4 separate regions of the Homo sapiens genome follow, and all the other regions are linked to region 1. The links come from fine-mapping of genetic effects on gene expression. A gene starts in region 1. Each other region holds a variant in brackets. All regions are shown on one strand. Distances are from middle to middle. Region 1 holds the start of ATP2C2-AS1 (ATP2C2 antisense RNA 1). Region 2 has its middle 41 kb from the start of MEAK7. Region 3 overlaps ATP2C2 (ATPase secretory pathway Ca2+ transporting 2). Region 4 overlaps SLC38A8 (solute carrier family 38 member 8).

The links. PIP is the estimated chance that this variant, and not a neighbour inherited with it, causes the effect.
Region 2: its variant is the best candidate, but not a certain one, in a credible set for the expression of ATP2C2-AS1 in whole blood (TOPMed, PIP 0.67).
Region 3: its variant is the best candidate, but not a certain one, in a credible set for the expression of ATP2C2-AS1 in lung (GTEx, PIP 0.67).
Region 4: its variant is the best candidate, but not a certain one, in a credible set for the expression of ATP2C2-AS1 in vagina (GTEx, PIP 0.87).

The regions. Positions count from the first base shown.
Region 1 is chr16:84,466,363-84,468,862 of GRCh38, forward strand. It overlaps ATP2C2-AS1 (ATP2C2 antisense RNA 1), which reads right to left and starts at 999. Exons shown (of 3, transcript NR_146503.1): 1 at 942-999.
Region 2 is chr16:84,544,707-84,547,469 of GRCh38, forward strand. No RefSeq gene overlaps it. Among named protein-coding and RNA genes, the nearest start is that of MEAK7, 41 kb to the left of the region's middle. RefSeq lists enhancers at 1-442, 1,932-2,683, 2,684-2,763. The variant C/T (reference allele first, on the strand shown) is at 1,176.
Region 3 is chr16:84,371,278-84,373,777 of GRCh38, forward strand. The region is part of intron 1 of ATP2C2 (ATPase secretory pathway Ca2+ transporting 2); the gene reads left to right. Among named protein-coding and RNA genes, the nearest start is that of ATP2C2, 4.0 kb to the left of the region's middle. The variant G/C (reference allele first, on the strand shown) is at 1,177.
Region 4 is chr16:84,011,582-84,014,305 of GRCh38, forward strand. SLC38A8 (solute carrier family 38 member 8) reads right to left here. Exons shown (of 11, transcript NM_001080442.3): 10 at 1,420-1,471. Among named protein-coding and RNA genes, the nearest start is that of SLC38A8, 30 kb to the right of the region's middle. RefSeq lists a silencer at 2,398-2,547. The variant G/A (reference allele first, on the strand shown) is at 1,583.

The DNA.
Region 1 (2,500 bases):
CTGATACCAAAACTAGAGAAAAATACTAGAGACCAACATCCCTTATGAATATATGCACGAAAATCCTCAACAAAATATGAGGAAATCAGATCTAGCCAGGTACGAAGAATATAAGACACCAGGACGAAGTGGGGTTAATTGAGGAATGGAATTCAAGCATTCCAAAGTTCAACATTCAAAACCAATATAACTGAAAAGTTCAACATTCAAAAACCAATATAACTCACTATATTAATAGTCTGAAGAAGGAAAAACACATGGTTATATCAATTAATGCAGAAAAGGCATTTGATAAAATTCAATCTCCATTTGTAATAAAAACTCTCAAACTAGGAATTGAAGGAAACTTCTTCAACCTGATAAAGAACATCTACAAAAAACCTATAGCTAACATCATACTTAATGATGAAAAACTGAATTCTTTCCCCACAGGATAAGGTCCAAGGGTGACCAGCCTCACCACTCCTATTCAGCACAGTATTAGAAGTCCTAGCCAGTGTAATATGGCAAGAAAAGTTAAAAGGCATTAGCAAAGAGCCTGGAAAGGAGAAAATCACAGATAACGTAATTGTCCACACAGAAAATCCCAACAAATCTTTTTAAAAAAGAAAAACCCTCGTAGAATCAACGAGTTTAGTAAAGCCACAAGATACAAGGTTAACACACAAAAAGCAGTCGTATTTCTATATATTAGCAATGAACAACTGGAAACTGAAATTTAAAATTGAATACTATTTGTCTGTCTCAAAAAAAAGTATCAATTCTCCCGAGATTGTTGTATTAGGTTTAACACAATTACCATCAAAATCCCAGGGTTTTTTTGTTTTTGTTTTTTTTTAAGACACAGATAAACTTGTTCTAACAAGCTTGGTATGATATTGTTATCAGCAGACCTATTTCAATTTCACTGGTTTTTACATAGTATCTGATGTTAGGCAAACCTGAGTTTAAGGGCACAGTGCTCCAGGTGGCTGGCCAAGTCTGCCCAGGCCTTCTGATACTGACTGCAGGTCCAAGAGTTTCCCACAACCACCTTCAGGTTGGATGATTCGTTGATGAGGCACACAGAGCTCACTGACACCTGTCATGCTCACAGCCATGTCTATTACCAGGAAAAGATACAGATTAGAACAGCCCCAGGGCTGCAACTGCAGAGACTGGTCACCCTCTCCCTCTGAGCTCAACAGTTTCTGAGTCCTGAGTCTTTCTAGCCAATCACTGGGTCTGAGAGTGGTTTCCTGCCCCCCACAACACAAGTTCTATGAAATTGTATGACACACATCAATTCAGGTAACCACTGCTACAATGAGGAGGCAAAACTTCCATCGCCCCTGAAAAACTCCTCCTTACTTTTTATAGTAACACCCTCCTAATCCCAGCAACCTCTAATCCCTTCTTCATCACCATAATGTTGTTCCTTCAATACTGTTACATAAATGGAATCATGGTATAGAACCTTTTAAGACTGGCTTTTGTCACTAAGCATAATACCTGTAAGGTCCCTTCAAGTTGTTTTATGTGTGTTCTTCTTCATGGCTGACTAGTATTCCACTGCATGGATGTACCACAATTTCTTTATCCACTCACTCATGGAGTGACAGAAACTCCTGTACAATTTTTGGAAGTCTATATGAATCTAAAATTATTTCAAAGTGTGTAAGAAGATAAGATATACTCATAGGGCAAAAATACACCAGGTAAAGACAAACAACACACAAGACCAAGGTGACACAGTCTAATCAGACAAGATTAAAAGAAAGGCCAAAAGCATTAAAGGAGACCAAGAAGGAAATTTAACAAGATATAATCACCACTGAAAAATCCATAGGCCAGACTATGTACCAACACAACATTCAAATTTAAAGAGGAAACAGTATGGGAAATTCAGGCAAAGGATACAGAAAATTCATTATATTAACTTACCACATGAAAGGACACAAAACCTCAGTGATTCCAAAGAGTAGATCTAATATAGATGACTTCTTGGTCGGGCATGGTGGCTCAGACCTGTAATCCCAGAACTTTGGGAGGCCGAGGCGGTTGGATCACTTGAGGTAAGGAGTTTGAGACCAGCCTGGGCAACATAGCGAAACCCCATCTCTACTAAAAATACAAAAATTAGCTGGGCATGGTGGTGGGCGCCTGTAATCCCAGGCTACTCGGGAGGCTGAGGCAGGAGAATCGCTTGAACCTGGGAGGCAGAGGTAGCAGTGAGCTGAGATCACACCATGGCACTCCAGCCTGGGCAATGAAGTGAGGCTCTGTCTTAAAAAAATAATAATACAGATGACATCTCTAATCACTATGCAATCTAATTTAAAGACGAGTGACAGGACTAGGGGAAATTCTCTAGCACAGCAAAATTTAAAAACTCTTGGGTACAAGAGAAAATCAAAATGAAGGCCACAGAAAATCTAGAAGCTTATGATCAACACACACCTATCTATACAATACTGCAAAATAACTCAGGGCCCAAGAAAAAAGTAATAGCTTTATGTAT
Region 2 (2,763 bases), 78 kb after region 1:
GCCCGAGACTCCTGCAAAGAAAATAAAGCAGACGAAGGGGCCTGGAGGCCTGAAACCTGGGCCGGGGGCATCAGGGGCTGCACACACCCTCATTTCACACCATCTGGGCATTTCCTCTGTGCCCCAGAGTCCCCAGGATCATTTCGTTTAAATGTGCAAAAATGAAATTCAATTTCTAACTGCACTCCGTGTGCTTATGAAGTAGTAGAAAACTCGGAAAGGTGGCACTTTAGGATAATTGACCTCGTTCAGGCTCAAAAGCCCCTTTGGCCAGTTCCTGGGTAAATTCAGGATTTGCATTCCATCGGGGCTATTCTCGGGTGTCCTCTCCTCCTGGCTGACCCCTGAGCCTGAATCCTGGGATTATTTTTAAAGCCTGGATATCACGCTGCTTCATGGTGCCGTGCAAAGCACTTGGTGTTTCCGTTACAGGGGGGACACCTGCCTGCTTCCAATTTTCGGCACTATAGATGATGCACGCTGCTGTCTCTGGAGGAATGTCACAGGATAATAGCTCATGTTCGAGGACTGCTTAGCCGGCCTGAAAGTTTTTGCAAGTATTAACTTATGTAATTCTCCCAACTCTCCTTGAGCAGAAGTTGCTATTGTTAGCTCCATTTTACAGATGGAGAAACTAAGGCACGGAGAGGTGAGGTGACGATAAGTGGCAGAGCTGGGATCTGAAGTGTCACAGAGAAGGGTGGGGAGGAGCTGGCACAGAGAGAAACAGCAAAAGTGGATTGCCTTCGCTCCATGCTCAGGACAAGTCTCCCTCTGATTAAGTGCACTGTGTTGAGAGGCCCCTGGGGAAGGTCTCAAAGCCATCACCCACAGCACAGATGGTGGAAGCTGGCACCCCTGCCATGCTGTGCTGGAAGTGTGCTTTGGTTACAGCCTGTGTGAAGGGCGACTTGACAGAGGCTGTCTCCATGTCAAAGGTGCATGTCCTGACCAGGGGCGGTGGCTCACGCCTGGAATCCCAGCACTTTGGGAGGCCGAGGTGGGTGAATCTCCTGAGGTCAGGAGTTTGCCAGCCTGGCCAACATGGTGAAACCTCGTGTCTACTAAAAATACAAAAATTAGCCAGGCATGGTGGCAGACACCTGTAATCCCAGCTACTCTAGAGGCTGAGACAGGAGAATCACTTGAACCCAGAAGGCAGAGGTTACAGTGAG[C/T]GGAGATCGCGCCACTGCACTCCAGCCTGGGACAGAGCGAGACTCCATCTCAAAAAAAATAAAAAATAAAACATGGTGCACGTCCTCTTTTGACCCTCTGCTGGCTATCTGTCCTCGGGAAATACCTGCCCATGTGCATGAAGAGGCATGGATGCTTATGCAGGGATGTTCCTTGCAGCATTGTTTGCAACAGTAAAGAATTGGAAATATCCTAAAATGCTCATCAGTAAGTGAGTGGTTAAATGATGGTACATTTACACTATGGAATCTGTTACCATAAGAAAGAATGCTATGTCTATATCTGGGTTTCTCAACATGGGTACAAGTGACATTTGGGCTGGATCATCCTTTGTGGTTGGGGGGGGGAGTGTCCTGTGCATTGCAGGAGGTTTAGCGGTATCCCTGGCTCTACCTACCAGATGCCAGTAGCACCAGCCTCCTTGGTGTGACACCCAGAAATGCATCCAGACATTGCCGAGTGTTCCCTGGGGGCAAAATTGCCCGTGGTTGAGGACAGCCAGTCTATATGCAGTGAAGTATAAAGGTCTCCAAAACAGACTAATACATGAAAAAAAAAGTTACAGAACTGTCTGCATTAAAAAAATACAATGCTGGTCAGGTGTGGTGGTTCAAATCTGTAATCCCAGATTTCTATTCTAAAAAATAGAAAAACGTAACTGGGCGTGGTGGTGCACACCTGTAGTCCCAGCTATTCAGGAGGCTGAGGTAGGAGGATTGCTTGAACCCGGGAGGCAGAGGTTGCAGTGAGCCGTGATGGCACCACTGCACTCCAGCCTGGGCAGCAGAGCAAAATCATGTCTCAATAAATAAATAAATAAATAAATAAAGCTAAGCTATTTATCTATATAGACATAGATACAGATACAGAGTCATGCATTCAACGAGTTTTATTGAGCACCTGCCCCATGCCTGGAACTGTTCTTGGTGCTGAGCAAGTAACGACGATCAAAATGAAGTCTCTGCTCTACTGGAGATTACCCTCTGGAGATTACACTTTGTCTTCTGGCGGGGAAAGACAGCAATGAACAAGCGAATAGACACACGGTATCAGGTGGTGATAAGTGCTACAAAGAAACATAAGTGGGGCTCGGGGACCTCGAAAAGACACAGGTGCTGTTTTAGAATGGGGTCAGGGCAAGGTGACATTCTACTCCACTAAGGTGACATTGAGCAGGGAGCTGCATGAATGAGGGACCAGCATGGGTACTTAGAGGTCAGTGGGCTCCAGGCACAGCAGGAGTCCCCCTGAGGCAGGATGGTGCTGTGTGAGCAGGAGGCCCAGCGAGGAGACCCGAGGGCCTGCAACAGAATAAATGAGGACCGTGGTGGGCGACGAAGCCAGTGAGACATTGGGGGCACAACCACAGCCGGCCTTGTTGCATAGCACTGACTTTGCTTTTCGCCTCGAGAACTGGAGCGATCAGGAGAAAATCCAGCTTGGAATGTAAAGAGGCCACGGTGGACGGTTCTGGGAGTAACGGAAGAGAAAAGGGGGAGGGGGAGAGGGAGAGAGAAAAGGAAGAAAGGGAGGAAAGCAAGGAGGGAAGAGGGGAAACACCAGATTGTC
Region 3 (2,500 bases), 95 kb before region 1:
AGACTGAGGCAGGAGGGTCACTTGAACCCCAGAGTTCAAGATCAGCCTGGGCAACATAGCCAGATGCCATCTCTGCAAAAAATTAGGCGTGGTGGTGTGCACCTGTGGTCCTAGCTACTCACCAAGCTGAAGCAGGAGGATTGCTTGCACCTGGGAGGTCAAGGCTGCAGTGAGTTGTGATCATGCCACTGTGCTCCAGCCTGGGCAACAGAGTGAGACCCTGTCTCAAAACAAAACAACAACAAAAAGGTCTTTGAGAGGCCTCCTTAATTTAGTTACTAGAAAAAGCTTCTCACTGCTGACCTGAACATTAGGGTAAGGAAGAGATTGGAGCAGAAATTCCTGCTTCCCAGGTGACTCAGCGCCAACTCCGGGGGAAGCTGTCTCTGCCCCTCAGGGCTCCCATCTCTTAAGTGAGGCAGGTATAGCCCCAGCCCACTGCCTTCCTGGCTGGTGAGCAGATGCATCCTTCTGGGCTCTCCAGGGTGAGGCTTGGATCCCAACAGACGAATGTAGTGACCACCCATCCATTCAACCTAGATTCACGGAGGGGGCTCCCTCTGTGTGTCAAGTGAGTGCTACCAGCTGGAGTTGGGGCTGATAAGGATGCACAGTTCTCTACCCTCAGGTATCCCAACCAGGAGGCAGAGACAGGCACCCAGCAACTGGTCACAGTTCACTGTTTAATGCCAACGTGTCAGAGCTGGGAGAAAGACGTGATGTTTAAGATGAATAGGAGTGGCAAAGGGTGAGCTGGATGAAGGGCAGGGATTGACAGCGAGTTCTAGACAGAAGAGGTAGAGGCGTTGGGGTTGGTAGGATGAGGCTGCAGAGGAGGGTCGTACGGAGCCTTGTCAGAGTGTGGGCTTTATCCCTGGAGCAGTGGGGGATCGTTGAAGGGTTTTAAGTCAGGACATGATAGTCACTCATTTATTCCCAGATGGGCCAAACATTAGAACTGTGATAAAACAGGCACAGTCAGATTTGTGTTTTTAAGAGATTACACTCAGTTACTGGAAAAGAGTATGTGTGTGGGAATTCTGAGGCTCATGCACACACAACTTTAACCCAAGGCTTGCCCAAACTCACAGATCATTAGTGTTTCTCAGAATTCAGCAACATGTGGGCATCTTCTTAAAGAAATGTACTGCAACCCCACAGTGTTTTTTCTTTCGA[G/C]ACAGTGTCTCGCCCTGTCACCCAGGCTGGAGTGCAATGGCATGGTCTTGGCTCACTGCAACCTCTGCCTCCCAGATTCTCCTGCCTCAGCTTCCCGAGTAGCTGGGATTACAGGCACCCGCCACCACACCCAGCTAATTTTTGTACTTTTAGTAGAGATGGGGGTTTCACCATGTTGGCCAGGCTGGTCTCGAACTCCTGACCTCATGATCCGCCTGCCTCAGCCTCCCAAAGTGCTGGGATTACAGGCGTGAGCCACCGCACCTGGCCAGTGTTGTCTTAAATGATTTGTACAAAAGTGTGATATCAAGTAAGTATAAGCATAAAACTTGTAATAAACATAACTGTTTGCTTATAACTCAACTATAAAATCAGGTTCAATTTAGGCCTGTTGCGGTGACTCACTCCTGTTTTCCCAGCACTTTGGGAGGCTGAGGCGTGCAGATCACTTGAGTTCAGGAGTTCAAGACCAACCTGGCCAATATGGTGAAACCCCTCTCTACTAAAAATACAAAAATTAGCCAGGCGAGGTGGCAGGCACCTGTAATCCCAGCTACTGCGGAGGCTGAGGCAGGAAAATCCTTTGAACCCAGGAGGCGGAGGTTGCAGAGAGCTGAGATCACGAAACTGCACTCCAGCCTGGAAGACAGAGCGAGACTCCCTCTCAAAAAAAAAAAAAAAAGTCAAATTTATAATAAAATTATAAAGTACAAATAGAACAGCCTTATTTTGATATATTGGTGATGTCTATTAAAACTCAATCAGGCTGGGCATGGTGGCTTACGCCTGTAATCCCAGCACTTTGGAAAGCCGAGGCAGGCGGATCACCTGAGGTTACGAGTTCGAGACCAGCCTGGCCAACATGGCAAAACCCCATCTCTACTAAAAATACAAAAATTAGCTGGGTGTGGTGGTGGGTGCCTGTAACCCCGGCTACTCAGAAGGCTGAGGCAGAAGAAACGCTTGAATGCAGGAGGTGGAAGTTGCAGTGAGCCAAGATTGCGCCACTACACTCCAGCCTGGGTGACAGAGCGAGACTCCATCTCAAAACAACAACAACAAAAAAAGAGACTGGAAACCAAAGCCTTTTTTGAATCTCATTTTGAAATGAGGTCTCATAACTTCTGCCATATTCTATTCGTTTGATGCAAGTCTAGGTCCAGTCTACACTCAAAGGGAAGGGGTTACACAGGCCATGGGTACTGGGAGGGAGTGATGGCTGGGGACTGCCTTAAAGGCTGCCCATTGGAATAGTAGAAAGAAATATTTCCTTCAATGACGTCATTCACGTTAAAAAAAATCCTAGAACCACATCTGACATGTC
Region 4 (2,724 bases), 450 kb before region 1:
CCCCAAAATTCATGTCTACCTGGAACCTGTGCTTGCCAGCTTATCTGGAAACTGGGTTTTGCAGATGTAATTAAGGAAAAGATCTTGAGAGAAGATACAACCTAGATTTAGGGTGGACCCTAATCTGATGGTAGGTATCCTTATAAAAGAAAGGCAGCCAGGTGTGATGGTGGGCGTCTGTGGTCCCAGCTACTCAGGAGGCTGAGGCAGGAGGATTGCTTGAGCCCAGGGGGTTGAGGCTGTAGTGAGCCACAATTACGCCACTGCACTCCAGCCGGAGCAACAGAGCAAGACTCTGTCTCAAAAACTAAAATAAATAAAAGCAGAGGGATTTCTGAGACGCAGAGACACAGGGAGAAAGCTAAATAATGATAAAGGCAGAGACTGGAGTGATGTAGCCACAGGCCAAGGAGCACCTGGGGCCACCAGAAGCTGAGGCGCCTTCAGAGAGTCCAGCCCTGCCAACACCTTGATTTCACACTCCTGGCTCCAGAACTGGGGAAAAAATTCATTTCTGTTGCTTTAAGCCTCCCCACCATGCCCCAATTTATGGTAATTTGTTACAATAACCCCATAAAACTAATACATCATCTCTTTACCTGCCTCAGCCTCAGTTTCCCCATCTATGGGATGGGAGGGAGTCACCCAGAACCCCAGACTACCCAGGGGCGGCTGAGGAAGCGCACATCATTCACGTGTACATCGTCCTCTTCCGTGGGTCAGACTCAGCTGCTCAGTGGCAAAGTACAGAGGCTCAGTCGTGTCTGATCCACAGGTCCGCTCGGGGATAAATATTTGTCAAATGAAGGAAAGATCCAAATTATCTGGTCTCAACAGCATTGTATGCCAGGCAGGTGGGTTAGCATGGGGCCTGGGAGCCAGGGGCCTGGGTTGCATCCTAGCTCTGTCCTCACTAGCATCCGGGCCCGCCTCCTCAGCTGTAGGATGAAGACATGTGGGTATGGTGGGGAGGTGAACATGTAAAAGGACCTAGCTCAGTGCCTAGCAGAGGAGCCTGGGAACAGCGACCCACTGCTGTGATGATGGTGTCTGGCCGGCCATGGGGCCTTTCTAACCCAGCCTGCACCCTGATCCTGCCCTGGGTCCGAGCCAGGTAACAAAGGAGGGTACAGATGCACCACTGGGTGCTTCCAGAGGCTGGAATCTACATGAAATCCCAACCACAGACCCTCAGAGTGGAAGGGAAGGCCCTTGGAGGACCCGGTGTTACTGGCCCGGGCTCCTATCCTGGCTCAGATGCCCTCATACTGGGTAGACAGAGACTCTCTTCCTGTGGCTCGCAGGTTTCTCACCTGCAGGATGCAGAGGATGAGAAATAGGATCTGCAGGGTCCCCTGAAACATTCTTACTCTGATCCGGGGCACACCCAGGGTGCCACCTCATCTTAGGGACACTTACTTGACTCTTGGTCCTATAGGCTCGACACCCATTGCACAGATGAGGCACAAACCTGCAAAAAAGACAGGGTCACCCACAGTTCTTCGTTATCAAACCCAAAGCAACAAAAAGGTCCCGGGAGAGGTCCTCAGGGACCCAGGAGGCCAGCAAGGCCTCCGCCCAT[G/A]GGTGCCCCTGGCTCAGGCCCCCTGGAGAGGCAACACAGTGGAGCTGGAAGGACGGGGCTGGAGTCCCAGCTCAACATGCCCTAATGACTTAGGCAGAGGTCTGGCAGCAACCGACTTCCCAGAGCCCCATCTTTCAGGCAACCTTGACAACATGCCCCCCCACAGCAGAGTCTATGAGGAGATGGTGAGAGTCCATGCCTGACACCCGGGAAGTGCTCGGCAACTGGCAGCTACCATTACTTTCTTTTGTTGTGTGTGTGTTTTTTTTTTTTTTTTTTTTTTTTTGAGACGGAGTCTCACTCTGCTGCCAGGCTGGAGTGCAGTGGCACCATCTCGGCTCACTGCAACCTCCACCTCCCGGGTTCAAGTCATTCTCGTGCCTCAGCCTCCCGAGTAGCTGGGACTACAGGTGCGTGCCACCACACCCCGCTCATTTTTGTATTTTTAGTAGAGACGGGATTTCACCATGTTGGTCAGGATGGTCTGGACCTCTTGACCTCGTGATCCGCCCGCCTTGGCCTCCCAAAGTGCTGGGATTACAGGCATGAGCCACTGCACCCAGCCCTTTTTTTTTTTTTTTTTAAATAGTTCTGCTAGGATTCAGGGCCATGTAGCTTGGCCTAAAGCTCCCAAAGGATCCTCTCTCAACTCAAACCTGTCCTGGGCAGTCCTTCCCACCACAGGAAATAGCCAGCGCTACAACTGGCCACCTGGTCACAGCATCAGAATTTAATCTAACAGCCCAGACCAGGGAGTGTGAGGGAGGAGCCACGTGGCCACAGCCTCACCTCTGAGAAGCTCCACCCAGAGCCTGAGTGAGGAGCCGTGTGGCCACACCCTCAGCCCTGAAAGCCCCGCCCAGAGCCTGAGGGAAGGGCTGTGTGACCACACTCTCATCTCTGAAAGGCCCGCCCAGAGCTGAGGGAGGAGATGCATGGCCACACCCCTCACCTCTAAAACCTCCTCTCAGAGCCTGAGGGAGGAGCTATGTGGCCACACCCCTCACCTCTGAAAGCCCCGCCCAGAGCCAAGGGAGGAGCTGTGTAGCCACACCCTCACCTCTGAAAGCTCCACCCTAAGCCCGAGGGAGAAGCCACAAGGCCACACCCCTCACCTCTGAAAGCCTCGCCCACAGCCTGAA